Linked DNA regions of Homo sapiens. The protein of the gene in region 1 purifies or fractionates together with the protein of each later gene. This does not show direct contact. Each region holds a gene or a part of one and is shown in the gene's direction. Other genes may lie near its edges.

The links.
Region 2: the proteins of VSTM2A (region 1) and ACAD8 purify together in Homo sapiens (affinity purification with mass spectrometry; 3 studies listed by BioGRID and IntAct, with this or other methods). This does not show direct contact.

The regions. Positions count from the first base shown.
Region 1 is NC_000007.14:54,545,350-54,552,376, forward strand, and holds part of VSTM2A (V-set and transmembrane domain-containing protein 2A isoform 2 precursor), read left to right. Parts: intron 1-811; exon of another isoform or gene 812-867; intron 868-1,597; coding exon 1,598-1,648; intron 1,649-4,484; coding exon 4,485-4,821; coding exon of another isoform or gene 4,822-4,922; exon of another isoform or gene 4,923-7,027. UniProt on the Homo sapiens protein: Plays a role in the regulation of the early stage of white and brown preadipocyte cell differentiation. Promotes adipogenic commitment of preadipocytes by increasing gene expression of the transcription factor PPARG in a BMP4-dependent signaling pathway.
Region 2 is NC_000011.10:134,256,548-134,263,574, forward strand, and holds part of ACAD8 (isobutyryl-CoA dehydrogenase, mitochondrial), read left to right. Parts: coding exon 1-101; intron 102-540; coding exon 541-710; intron 711-1,967; coding exon 1,968-2,077; intron 2,078-2,460; coding exon 2,461-2,537; intron 2,538-3,060; coding exon 3,061-3,198; intron 3,199-3,481; coding exon of another isoform or gene 3,482-3,526; exon of another isoform or gene 3,527-3,617; intron 3,618-4,496; coding exon 4,497-4,632; intron 4,633-4,727; coding exon 4,728-4,825; intron 4,826-5,190; coding exon 5,191-5,343; intron 5,344-5,584; exon of another isoform or gene 5,585-5,729; intron 5,730-5,972; coding exon 5,973-6,075; intron 6,076-6,222; coding exon of another isoform or gene 6,223-6,332; exon of another isoform or gene 6,333-6,553; intron 6,554-6,788; coding exon of another isoform or gene 6,789-6,949; exon of another isoform or gene 6,950-7,027.

The DNA.
Region 1 (7,027 bases):
GGGGGAGACCGGGAGAGGCACAGAGAAGGAGAAAGAGACGGAGAGAGGGAAGGGGGAAAAAGGGGAGAGACGGAAGGGAAAGAGAAGGGAGGGAGAAAGAAGGTAGAAGAGAAGGAGAGAGGGAAGGGGAAAAGAGGGAGAGAGGGAGTGAGGAGAGGGACAGAGAGAAGGGAAGGAGGGAAGGGAGAATTGGAGTGGGGAGGGGAGAAGAAGAGGGGGAGAGGGAGAAAGAAGGGGGAGAGAGGGAGAGAGGGACGGGGAGGGGGAAGGGGCTGGGAAAGAGGGAAGGGGGAGACGGGAAGAGACAGTGAAGGGGAAAGAGAGAGGGAAGGGGGAAAAAGGGAGAGAGGGAAGGGAAAGAGAGAGAGGGAAGGGGAAAAAGGGAGAGAGGGAAGGGAAAGAGAGGGCAGGGAGAGAGAAAGGAGAAGAGAAGGAGAGAGGGTAGGGGAAAAGGAGGGAGGGGGCGAGAGGGACAGAGAGAAGGGGAGGGGGAAGGAAGAGAGGGAGAATTGGAGTGGGAAGCAGAGAAGGAGAAGGGTAGAGGGAGAAAGAATGGGGAGAGAGGGAGAGAGGTAAGAGGGGGGAAGGGGGTGGGAGAGCAGAGAGAATGAGGGGGAAGGGGTGGGAGAGGAGAGAGAATGAGGGGGGAAGGGGGGAGGAAGAGAAGGAGCAGGAGAGACATGGGGGAGAGAGGGCACAGAAGGGAGAGAGGGAAGGAGAGGAAAAGGAGAGACGGAGGGAGAGGGAAGGGAGAGGGAGGGAAAGGAAGAGAGGGAGAGAGGAGTAGAGAAGAGGCAGGGAGAGGAGAGAAGGAGAGTGGAGAAGGGAAGGAAAAGGAGAGAAGAGAGGAAGCGAGGAGAGAAGGAAGTAGGGGAATGGGGAGTGTGGAGGGGACGGAGGGTGACTTGGGAAGAGACAGGAGAGAGGGTGGTGAGGTGGGGAAGGAGAGGGAGAAAGGAGGAGATGAGGAAAAGGAAAATAGCGGGAGGAGGGGAGAGGGGAAGGGGGTCCGGGCGAGGGAGACCTAGTTGAGCGAGAGGCGGCGCCCCTGCGAGCCAGCAAGAGAATCTGGGGCCAGGAGCGCGGGGCGGGACGGCAGGCGGGATGGTGGCCGGAACAAAGGCGCGAAAATTCGTCCCGGAGCACTTCACCTTCACTCACGCCGGCCGCCCCACCCCTGGCGCCCGCCCGCCTCACCCCTGGCGCCCCCCCGCCTGCCCGCCCGCCCACCCACCTCCGGGCGCGCGTCCGCACGGGTCAACCCGCGAAAAAGACCCGGCGGCTCCCGGCCCCGCCTCCAGAGCGCAGCATCCGCGCGGCAGGGACAGCGCCGGGACAGCGCCGGGACAGCCCCGGGACAGCCCCGGGGAAAGCGCGGGGACGGCGTGGGGTATGCCAGGGACAGCGTGGGGTATGCCAGGGACAGCGTGGGGGCGGTGCGGTCTGGGCCTGGACAGGGGTGGCCACGCCCCTGGTCGCTCCCCTGTCCCCAGGTCACCCTGACGGCCCTGCCCGGAGCCGCGAAGGCTATGCTCGCGTGGGAGCGGGTGGTCGGGCGGGCCTGGCGCGGGACTGAGCGTTCGCTCCTTGCCCGCAGGTGGAGCTCTTGCCCGACAGAGACCCGGACAGCGACGGGACCAAGATCAGCGTGAGTGCGGGGCGCGCCAAGGGCCGCGGGCCCAGGCTCGGGACGCACAGCCCTTCCCTGTCCCCGAGAAGGCGGCTTGCCAGCGCTGCAGGACAGCCGGACAGCCGGGTGCCCCTTGCTTGCCTCATTAGATACATACAAATGGAAGCACATTTAGAGTCCCTAAATAAAATTACATATTTTAGTCACGTAAATGTCTAAACATTCTAGAGAATCGTTTGCTATCCAGAGAGGTTGTGTGACACTTTCTTTCCTTGCTTTTTGTAACTTACCTAACAGTAAGAGTAAATACATTGCTAATATCTATTCAAAATTATGGAAACAATTATATTTTAGTAGAAAGTAAAACAGTAACATAGGAAAATATTTTTAGGGAGAAAAATATAAAGCATCCAACAGGATACTGAAATTGTGATGAAATTAAGCAACTAAATTTTGAATGTCACTTTAATGCATGGAATGTATTTCCAGTGCTGTTATTAAGAATATATAAATATAATGCCAAAAGCCAATATAAATGTAAAACCATTATTATAGGAGCTTGACCTATTGAAAATGTAAACTTATAGTTCCACTCTCTTGCTTATTACTTTTAATAAGTGTGTGTAAAATTTAAAAAGTGAAAGTCTTATTTTTTTACTATACCTCAAATGAGCCGCATAGCATCAGTTAATATTAATAATACTGCTTCATTTTTTAAATAGAAACGAAATAGGTATGTAATACAAAAGGAGGAAATCTGTTAAGCATAAACATATTGTTATTATTTGTTTTTAGAAATCTAAAATCCCAATGACCTACATTTTAAAAGAAAATGTATTTTAAGGCTCTTACAATAGCGTAAAGTGGTAGAAGATTGGAGTTACATCATAACTAAAAATGTACAAATATATTGTACACAGAATCTAGTTCTGTGATCTAAATGTGTAATCTCAACATGGAAGAAAAAATGACAAAGATGAAATATCAACCATAAACTCTGATTTAAAACTCATAAAATTACTGACTTTTTAGAATACTTCAATTATTCTTATATCACAGAAACTGTTGTTTTCCTACAATATTAGAAAAGCTTTATTGGTAAAATCTAGTTTTTTCTTAATTATTTTATTTTTCACATACATATATAACTAGATAGATTGCTTGGTGACTATTCTTCCTTCACCCTTCACCCGTCCCCCTATCATCTAAAGGCCAGTAACAAAAATAGTCTTCATACATCCTGACCCCTGATGCATACATTGAGAAACATGATTACACACACAACTGTTGATAGTATTACCTATGCCAATAATGCATAAAAGTTAATGAGTAGAAGAGAGTTTTAGACACAAACTGAGGCAGAAAGTAGTTTGTTCCCTGTTTACCCACTGTGTGACCTTGAACATATTTTCTCAACCACTAGTTATTAACTTTGAATTCCCAGGAGAGTTGTTATAAAATACTGATGATATAAGCTCCACCTTCCAGAGATGCAGACTTAATATTTCTGCATTACTCCACATGCCAGTATTTTTAATAGCACCCCAGGTGATTCTAATGTACACTCAGTGTTGAAAATCACTGACCCAAACACCCCAAGCCTCAGTTTACTCAACTATAAAATGGGATAATAATATAAATACTCTAGCTACCTCAAACTTTGTTAGGAGATTTAACCCAGAATAAATGTGGAAGTATTCACTTCATTTTTATAGTATTAGTATATTTATATGTAATTTTATATACACATAAACCCATAGGGTTCAAATGTTGGAAATTATTTGTATATATACCTCTATATGTAAAAGCAGATGAGTGCTTCTCAGGTTTTCCTAGTAATTTATGGCCGTTTGAAAGTGTAGTGGCCATTAGCAGAAAAAATAACTTTCGGCCTCCTTCATTTCTTTTCTGTATCTTTCAAAATGAACCAAATTCTTGAATCCCAAATGTCTTATGAACCCTATCATTGTCTCAGTTATGAAGAACATATGATTATGTATTAAACCTAACTGTTCTGATAAAGATGCTTATATATATAATATAGGATATATAATATAAAATCATATATCTAATATATATATCAGATATATGATCTTGCTATTAATCTGGAATAAAACTTATTAGAAGAAATAAATAAGCCAATTTCAATTTTGAAAATCAAGCCAGTGTTTTATCGATGGCATCCCAAGTCCCTGTAGTATAAAGTCCCTATAATGGCATGGGATACATACTTTGAGCAACAAGACTTCAGGTGATATGAAGCTGTACCCCAAGCCATGCCACCCTATGACTAGAGGCAAGACTGCATCTAAAATTTAAGAAGAAAAATATTAATATCCAAGTTCATTAATAGCACCTTTAGTAGTCATCCCAGTGTGGGGATACAAGTGCATTCTCACTCAAACTCATGACCAACAAAATATTTTTGTGATGTCTCAGAGTTGAGGGGCTTAGTTTATAGCCCACAGGGAAGAAAAGAGGTTGTTTCACCTATAGAGTTGGCCTTATTGGTTTGTGCTTCATTGAACTGAGTTAAGCAGGCAGAGGCCAATCCCATGATGGAAAAATGACGGAGCTGCTACTGGCATGTAGACAATGGGGGGCACGTGGCTGACAGAATCTGGCACTGGCTGCATTGAACTAATTATCTCCTGAGTCTGCAAGTGCAGTGGTTGGTGGAATAGGATAGCCAAGGCCTTCAGATGTGACGTTAAGGAAATAAAAAGCTCCTTCACTATGGCTATGGGGCCATTAAGACCCTTTAACTTTCCAATATTAGCAAGCTCAGGGTAAAAAATGGAACAAAATCATTTGATGTAGCACTTTATTGTTTTTTTTACCTGCAATTTTTCAGACAGTGAAAGTCCAAGGCAATGACATCTCCCACAAGCTTCAGATTTCCAAAGTGAGGAAAAAGGATGAAGGCTTATATGAGTGCAGGGTGACTGATGCCAACTACGGGGAGCTTCAGGAACACAAGGCCCAGGCCTATCTGAAAGTCAATGCCAACAGCCATGCCCGCAGAATGCAGGCCTTCGAAGCCTCGCCCATGTGGCTGCAGGATATGAAGCCCCGCAAGAACGTCTCCGCAGCCATCCCCAGCAGCATCCATGGCTCTGCCAACCAACGAACGCACTCCACCTCCAGCCCTCAAGTGGTAGCCAAAATCCCCAAACAAAGTCCACAATCAGGTATGGAAACCCATTTCGAGCCTTTTATTTTACCACTCACAAACGCTCCACAGAAAGGTCAGTCGTATAGAGTAGACAGATTTATGAATGGTGATTTTTAAAATCGGAGACCTAGTTCAGTGCAAGTGATTATGAGAGGTGAGCACCGAGCCTGCACCAATTCACTCAGAGCTCAAAGCATGTGGGTGCACCCCGTCAGTCCCCTAGTGGTGCTTCATTTCCAGGGCATCTGAGAGCTGGACTCTGGTTTTTATCCTTTCTGTATTTACACATTATAAGAACAATAAATCATGTAATGTTGGTTACATTACAAATGCATGTTCATTTTCTCTACAGATTTATGTATCGATAATGACCCAAATTAAGAGGCTTTCACTTAATCAAAATGTAAATGAGAGAGACATGCCATATCATGCATTTTCAGCGACCCATAGCTCTAAGCAGGACTATTCTCCAAGGGCTTTTGATTTTGAAGGAGAAACCTCAGCTGCCTGTGATGATGATAATGGAAGGATGGAGGGGGGATTGAAGACTGTAAGTGGTGCAGAGATAAGGCAACTCCTCTGTGAATTTGCCTTCCAGGCCAATTTAGAAGCTTAGTCACAGGATTCTGAAGGCAGCTGTGCAAGTTAAAGCTGTTCTGAATGGCATTAATGTATGCAGTCATTCAGCCAATGGAAATGCGTGGAAGTTTTAACCTTGATGTGGGATAAAGGCTTCGTGGAATGAGCAGTACCCTGCACAACCCCGCGGCCGTCCCGATTTCCTCAAACACGTGACATGGGATGAAGGGAGCACAAACATACTGACTTTATCCTTCTTTAGGTTTTTCCCTAAAGAAGTATTGATGCTACCATCAGTAATGGAAAATTACATTGCTAATATTTAAGGTCTCTTCAGCCATTAAATTAAAAAGTCTGATTACTTCACCAGGATGATTTCTGAGATCTCATCTCATATCGTCCTGAATACACACACACACACACACACACGCACACACACACACATCTCAGAAATCATCCTAATCAAATATAGACTTTATATATATCAAATATATATATACATGTAGAAATACATATAGGTATGTATCTTTAAGTCCTTGCTTGTGAACAATGCTTTTAAATGTTTTTAAAATACTGTATGCCAAAATAGGTTTTCTCTTAATGCTTTACTTCCTAATGGATGTGATTTGCAGATTTGTAGGGCACTTGGATTAGGGTTCTCTGAGTTTGCCCTGCCTTATAATGTAGATGAGCAACTCTCCTGGCATGCCTTGGTCATTGCAATTTATGTCAGTCTGATGAACAGATGGCTTAGCCTCTCTGAAGCCCAATGTGTGTGGATTTGTCTAATTTTTTTCTTTATAATCTTTTCTGCTTACCAAATTAAAGGACAAACTAGTATAGCTGGAACATATATGTGTGTATCCATACACACTAAACACACAGGTATATGCTAAATTGTAATGGTAACCAAATGATGGTTACAACTTTGTGACTATTATTTGAGGAAGATTTAATGTCTTTGGAGTGATTTTCCCCTCTTTCTTCACATTATCATAAAAGAAGTTAGACACTACAGGCAAGATTACAGAGTAGCCTAAGCAGACAATTTACAACCTAATTAGCAAGAACTCCAAATCATGGAAGTGAAATTATTATTATCCTACATAGACTGTTCCAAGTTAGATGTCATCAATCTGTTCGGCAGAATAAAATCAAACAGATTACCTATTCCAAGTGAAGAATTCCAAGGGTAGAATGAAATGCTTTATCTATTTCTAGAATGTTTTCTTAGCTTTTGGGGTTTAATAATGCAATCTCAAAATATCTATTTATTTTATTTTAATATCTCTTAGCGCTGTGATTAGTGCTAAATGATAAACTCTAGATCTCTTCTAACAATTATCAAATAAAAATTACTGCTCTTTTTGCATCCCATTGCCAGCCTTGCTGTCAGATTCAAAATTGCTTTTTCTAGAGTTAAAGGTAGAAGGAGAGAAAAAAGTGACTCATGAAGTCTATATTCATTAAAAGTCCTGTTCACTAAACATATCTGCTTATATCAAAGAGTAACTTGAAATATCTGAAAATATTTAATTTCAATATTTCCAACCAGTGAATACTGGATAATATTTTTATATACTTCTATCAACATTTTCTAATTTCGATTTCAGAAGCTGGGGCAGTCCAGTCACTCACTTTAC
Region 2 (7,027 bases), on another chromosome or scaffold:
CTTCCATGGGACTTAATGAAGAGCAGAAAGAATTTCAAAAAGTGGCCTTTGACTTTGCTGCCCGAGAGATGGCTCCAAATATGGCAGAGTGGGACCAGAAGGTAGGCGTTTTTCTTGTGCTTAGACGTTCTAACAACAGATGTCTCAGGCAGACCTTTATCTTTGTCTCCTGATAATGTAATTGTTAAATGTCTCCTCCACTTACCAACTCTTACTGCAAGTGAGAATACCGGTAGTGGATGATTTTTCCTAGAAGGCATCCTGATCATCTTGTACATAACTTTTTTTTTGTTAGTTGAATAAAGATTTGGATATAAAACTAAGGCAGTTCTATAGATAATAAAAAGAAACTTCTTAATGCCAGAACAAGTTTTTACAGGACCCATGTTAACTGATAACCACTGTAAGATGACAAACAGGCATATTAAGAGAATTCATACGCTGTCGCATGTGCAAGCCTCCTAATCCCTCACTGTGCCCTCTAAAAGGAAGGCCGTCTCTGAATCAGCTGCTGATCACCCTGCTCTCTTTTGTACATAGGAGCTGTTCCCAGTGGATGTGATGCGGAAGGCAGCCCAGCTAGGCTTCGGAGGGGTCTACATACAAACAGATGTGGGCGGGTCTGGGCTGTCACGTCTTGATACCTCTGTCATTTTTGAAGCCTTGGCTACAGGCTGCACCAGCACCACAGCCTATATAAGCATCCACAAGTGAGTGCCCAAGCTTGGAAGGCACAATGAAGTGCTCACTCGGGCTGACTGTGAGAGTTCAGATTCGTAGGAAAAAGATTGATCTTTTGAAGCTGAGTGTCCTCAAGGAACTGGACTTAAAAGTACACTCTAGGGGCCGGGCGCAGTGGCTCGTGCCTGTAATCCCAGCACTTTGGGAGGCCAAGGCAGGCAGATCACGAGGTCAGGAGTTTGAGACCAGCCTGGCCAACGTGGTGAAACCCCGTCCCTGCTAAAAATACAAAAAATTAGCCGGGTGTGGTGGCTGGCGCCTGTAGTCCCAGCTACTCGGGAGGCTGAGGCAGGAGGATGGTGTGAACCCGGGAGGCGGAGCTTGCAGTGAGCCGAGATGGACCACTGCACTCCAGCCTGGGCGACAGAGCGAGACTCCATCTCAAAAAAAATAAATAAATAAAATAAGTACACGCTAGGTCTGTTGCTGCCTGTTGGACTTGATTCTGTCATCCTGTGTATTGCTTAGGGAATCAGGTCAGCCAGCTTTCTCAGAAATCTTATTTTGAGCTGGTACCAGGAGACTTCTCCAATAGAGTGATCAGGGTCCTCTCACCCTTTTATTTATTTATTTATTTTTAAGACAGAGTCTCGCTCTGTTGCCCAGGCTAGGGTGCAGTGGCATGACCTCGGCTCACTGCAACCTCCGTCTCCCCGGTTCAAGTGATTCTCCTGCCTCAGCCTCCTGAGTAGCTGGGATTACAGGCACGTGCCACCACACCTGGCTAATTTTTTTTCATATTTAGTAGAGATGGGGTTTCACCATGTTAGTCAGGCTGGTCTCAAACTCCTGACCTTGTGTTCTGCCTGCCTCGGCCTCCCATAGTGCTGGGATTACAGATGTGAGCCACCGCACCCGGCCCCTCTCACCCTTTTCCTCAATCCAAAGATGGAACTGCCAGTGATTTGAGGAAGTAATAGAAACTACTAATAGAAAGCACATATAACTCTGATTTTTAGAGGCTCGTGTAACCTAACTAGAAGTAGTACAAACGTGCTGGTGAGAAGTACCTCAGCCTGGTTATCTCTGGGTAGTCCTTATTCCAGGAATATGTTTTAATCCACCGTTTGCCTTTAAAGAGTCTTCCCAATTGTGACTCTCCCCTTCCCACTCTTCTGCTTTACTCCACTGCCCTGCCCTTTGTTCTCTTTCCCCTTCTCCCCCATTTTTTTTTCTTTTCCATCTTTATTTCTGTCATTGTCTTTTCTTCTTGGTGTACCTATCAGCATGTGTGCCTGGATGATTGATAGCTTCGGAAATGAGGAACAGAGGCACAAATTTTGCCCACCGCTCTGTACCATGGAGAAGTTTGCTTCCTACTGCCTCACTGAACCAGGTGAATTTGCCACACTGCACTGAGATATAGCAGGGAGAGATGCTTCCTGCTCAGATGGCATTACCGAGCACTCCTTCCAGCCTCTTGACATGTCGAGCCACTGTTTATCTAGCTGTTTGGTTGAGGAGTAATAGAGTCCTGTGACCTGATGTCACAAGGACCAAGAAGCCTATCTGGTGTGTTGGGAGGTAGGCAGTGGCCTGACTGGTATGAGCAGTTTCCACCAAGTACAGAGAGTTCCTTTGGCCACTTGGGTTTTGCAGTGACACACTCTGAGCAGGGTCTGTTTAGAGAAGATTTCCTAGAAGATAGAATTGTGCTGGGCTCCCTCGACCTCACTGACTTTCTCACCTTCTCTCTGCTGCCTTTTGATCCCTCCTCAGGAAGTGGGAGTGATGCTGCCTCTCTTCTGACCTCCGCTAAGAAACAGGGAGATCATTACATCCTCAATGGCTCCAAGGTACTAGCGTGCGTCCTCCCAGAGCACTTTGGAGATTGTTCCCAGCTTCCTCCTGACATCCTCTGGTTCCTTCACATCCGCGGGTTAATACTCCCATAGGATTTTTATGTGTTGGGAAGAGAACCTCTGACCCATTTCTCTTTCTTTATTCTCACTGTTTGTATCTCTCCTAATCTGATTCCAGATCATTTCGTTGACTTTTGTCTATCCTTTTTATACTCTCTTGGACTGCCTCTCTGATCTGCAGTCACTGCAGCGACCTTTTACCTCACCTCAGTCTCTGTGCCATTGGACCTTATTGTCAGTCTCTGTGCCATTGGACCTTATTGTCAGTCTCTGTGCCATTGGACCTTATTGTCAGTCTCTGTGCCATTGGACCTTATTGTCAGTCTCTGTGCCATTGGACCTTATTGTCAGTCTCTGTGCCATTGGACCTTATTGTCAGGAGGACCCAGTGGTGTTCCCAGACGCTGTGAGAACTCAAGCATTCCCTGGTCCTTTTGCACCCCTTTTACCCCCACAGGCCTTCATCAGTGGTGCTGGTGAGTCAGACATCTATGTGGTCATGTGCCGAACAGGAGGACCAGGCCCCAAGGGCATCTCATGCATAGTTGTTGAGAAGGGGACCCCTGGCCTCAGCTTTGGCAAGAAGGAGAAAAAGGTGAGTGGCTGTTGGACAGGAAACAATTCAGGTTATGAGACTCTGCCACCTGCCAGCCCAACTCCTGCTCTATTTCAGAAAACAGGTTTGCATACTTGCTAACCTACCTTTGAAGCAGTTGCTTCTATTAGGATTTTCAACAGGAGCATATGAAATACAACAGGGCATTATTAAACACTAGGCCTCTGGGGAAAGTGACAATGTTTGCCAGTAAATTCTTCAAGCCACCTGTGAGTGTTCTGACCTCTCCTGCCTCTGCTTTTGGCCTGTGTTCCTTATCCAGCTGCTTACGTTGGTGCACTTTGTTGCTCCAGGAAGAGACGCTTAGAGAAGACCTGGTGTTGGCCACAAGTCTCAGTAATGGAAGGCGTGTGGTCCCTTTTGCTTCTTTGATTAAAAATAAAGTAAAACTCATTGGAGATGATTGTGGGTATTTCAGCAACCCAAGAAGGACACTTAGGTACTGTAAGTAATTTGAAAAGTAAGATACTTCTAGGATTAAGAGCCGCCATGGCCAGGGCATGAACAGGAGACTTGTGATCATGTAACCGTAATTGGTAATAAGGGCTCAAGACCCATTCAGATTTTTTAGACCAGATGCTCAAAGCAGTCATCTCTCTCTAGTTTGTACTGTTATGGGGGGACTTTGTGAGAGAAGGCAGGTAATGAAATGACCCCTAAGTGTACCTCTTTCTCACAGCTCCTCGGGTTTCTGTATTTTCCTACAGGATCCTTCCTGATCCTCTGTAACTGTAAGGCATTATGCATTTTAGCATCCCCTTCTCTTTGGTAACACAGCAACCATTTCCTAGGCTTCTACTGTGTGTGAAGCCCATGCTAACTCCTGGGCAGGAAGACCTTCAGTAAAAGGCTTAGAAATGGAGTTTATCCTATCAACAAAAGAGAGCAAGGAAATGATGTAAAGGCAGTCTATTTTCAGAGCCAGAGAGGAACTGGGAGATTGTAGATAGTTTGTGGTTTTCAATTAGAGGCACTGAAATTGGGGGCAGTTGGTGTCACAATCCTAAAAGAAGTTGTGAGAAGTGTTTGTAGGTTAGTCAGGTAGAGTAGACATTAGTAGATTCTCTTAATAAGTTAGAAAATGTTTAGCTGAAACAGGTATCTTTCTGAGTGCTGACAGGCCTTTAAACCTGAACTTTTTCTTTTTCCTCATTTTAAGTTCTTGTGGGTCTAAGTCTTGGGTGCTGAAACCCATACCTCACAGGCTCCCGTCCCCAGGGAAGGCCGCCCTACCTGCTGGATTGTTGGGCAACCACGCAGTCCCTGATTTTTGCCAGGTGGGGTGGAACTCCCAGCCAACACGAGCTGTGATCTTCGAAGACTGTGCTGTCCCTGTGGCCAACAGAATTGGGAGCGAGGGGCAGGGCTTCCTCATTGCCGTGAGAGGACTGAACGGAGGGAGGATCAATATTGGTGAGATACGCAGGGGTGTGGCAGGGAGGTAGCGGTCCGGGACAGGCACTGCTGTTTTCCAGCTTGGTTGGAACGTCGGCGCTCTTCCCCTCTAGCTTCCTGCTCCCTGGGGGCTGCCCACGCCTCTGTCATCCTCACCCGAGACCACCTCAATGTCCGGAAGCAGTTTGGAGAGCCTCTGGCCAGTAACCAGGTAACCTCTGCCTTGCCTCCACATGGCTTTGCACTATTTGCAGCCCGGGACCTGCTCTAGGGCCCACATTTCCAGGAGAGAAGCCAGGAAATTCCTCTGTCAGTCCCACCACTGTCCTAGCCAGAGCTTGTGCTTTATTTCTGTCCATCTTTTCTTGGGATATCTTTAACGATATTAAAGTGTCGGGTGAGTGAAGTGGACTTAGCACTTAAAAGCAATAAATTTCCTCTATAGAAAAAGCAAGAGACTTTGAAGCTTTGGATCACTTAGAAAAGGCGCCTCCGAGATGTCTTACCGAGGCTCCTGCACCAGGTGCTGGTCTAAGCCCCTCAGTCTTGTCTGGTTCTCTGCTCCCTGTGCTGCAGTACTTGCAATTCACACTGGCTGATATGGCAACAAGGCTGGTGGCCGCGCGGCTGATGGTCCGCAATGCAGCAGTGGCTCTGCAGGAGGAGAGGAAGGATGCAGTGGCCTTGTGCTCCATGGCCAAGCTCTTTGCTACAGATGAATGCTTTGCCGTAAGTGATTCCTCTGGCTCTCCTGGGATGGACAGGGAACAGCTGCTAGGCCCAGGGGTCTTGAGAGACATGAGTCAGATTTGGAACCCAGCCCTCCTGGAATCCCACAAGGATCACCTTAAGCTTAAGGATATAAATGAACTCATGAGCGGCCTATGTGGGAGCTCTCATCGCTGGCTTTTAGGCCTGCTGCATGCCATTATACACTTCATTATGTCACTGTTGTTTGGTTGTGTTCTAGGCGAGAAACCACCTTTGGAAGGTTCACAGCAGCCCCAATTTAGCACTCTGCCATGTTTACATTGTCAGGCTGCATTGCCACTAGGGGGAACCATAGCTTTTTATCATCCCAGCCAGGGTGGCTGTGGGCAGCTTCTGCCTGGCAGGTAATAAGGGAGAGGGGCAGAGGGCTTTGAGTCGCCTGTCTGGGGGGAACTGACAAGTTTAGTAGGTGAACTTCCCTTGTCTCTAACCATACAGAATGTGGAGGCCCTCTTTGAGCTTGGCTGTTTGTGGTTCTTTCATGGGTTTATGGCGGGCTGCCAGATCGTGGGCTGGGGTAGGAAGGGAAGCTGCTTGCTCCACAGTCTTCCCAGAGTCCAAGACGTCTAGTCCCTGTCTCCCTGCAGATCTGCAACCAGGCCTTGCAGATGCACGGGGGCTACGGCTACCTGAAGGATTACGCTGTTCAGCAGTACGTGCGGGACTCCAGGGTCCACCAGATTCTAGAAGGTAAAAATTGCCAGAGGTTATTCTCTTCCCTTCAGAACGGGGGCGGGATCGCTGCTTTCCCCACTCTCTGTCCCCATGCCTCCTGGGCCTCAGGGTGCAGTCAAGCCCTGTCTGTCTCGAGGCTTCCTCCTCCCTCCCGTTCCGCAGAGCTGTTCTGGCAGGGGCCTGGAGTCCAGAGCCGCAGCTTCGTCCCTTTCGGGGGGCCTCAGATCGCTCTGCTGCTGCCCTTTTCCTCTGGAGATCTGCGAGAAGGGTGAACTGAGATAATGGATGAGAAAGCATGTTGAAAACCACAGCCGGGGCTTTTCTCTAAGGTTATCGAGTACGTGGTTCTCAGGGATCCAAGAACAGTGATGGACAAGGCAAATGTGAGCCAGTATGGTCATCAGTAGCTCTATATTGATTATCAGCCAGATGGCCTAAAAGATACCTGTCTCAATATTACTAGTGTATTTTTCAATAAAATAAACCATCACTATATGGGTATCTTCTTGGTAGTCACAGACATTCTATCGAGGAAACATGGAAGCCGTTGGGGTCGGGCTCGGAGCCTGGCTGTCTCCACTCTCTACAGCCAGTGCGGAAGTCTTGAAATGACACGACTCTTGGAAAAGCAGGAGGGGCAGAGGCTTCTTTGAGTGACTTCGGTGAAGCAACGTGAGGCTGCCTTGCTGGAAACATTATATAATGGGGCTTCCCTGCCCCTTTCACAGCACCCTTCTCAAACCTCAGCCTGTGCTGGAATCGCCTGGAGGGCATGGGAGCGCAGATTGCGGGCCTCAACCCCAGAGCTTCTGCTCCAGAGGGTCTAGTGTGGGCCTGGGAATTTGTATCTGCAACAAGTCTTCAAGTGAGGCTGCCACAGCTTGTCTGAGAACCACACTTTGAGACCCACCGCTCTGGTGTTAATGTCAGAGTCACAGGCTACCACAGGTTAGACCGCTGCTTTCTT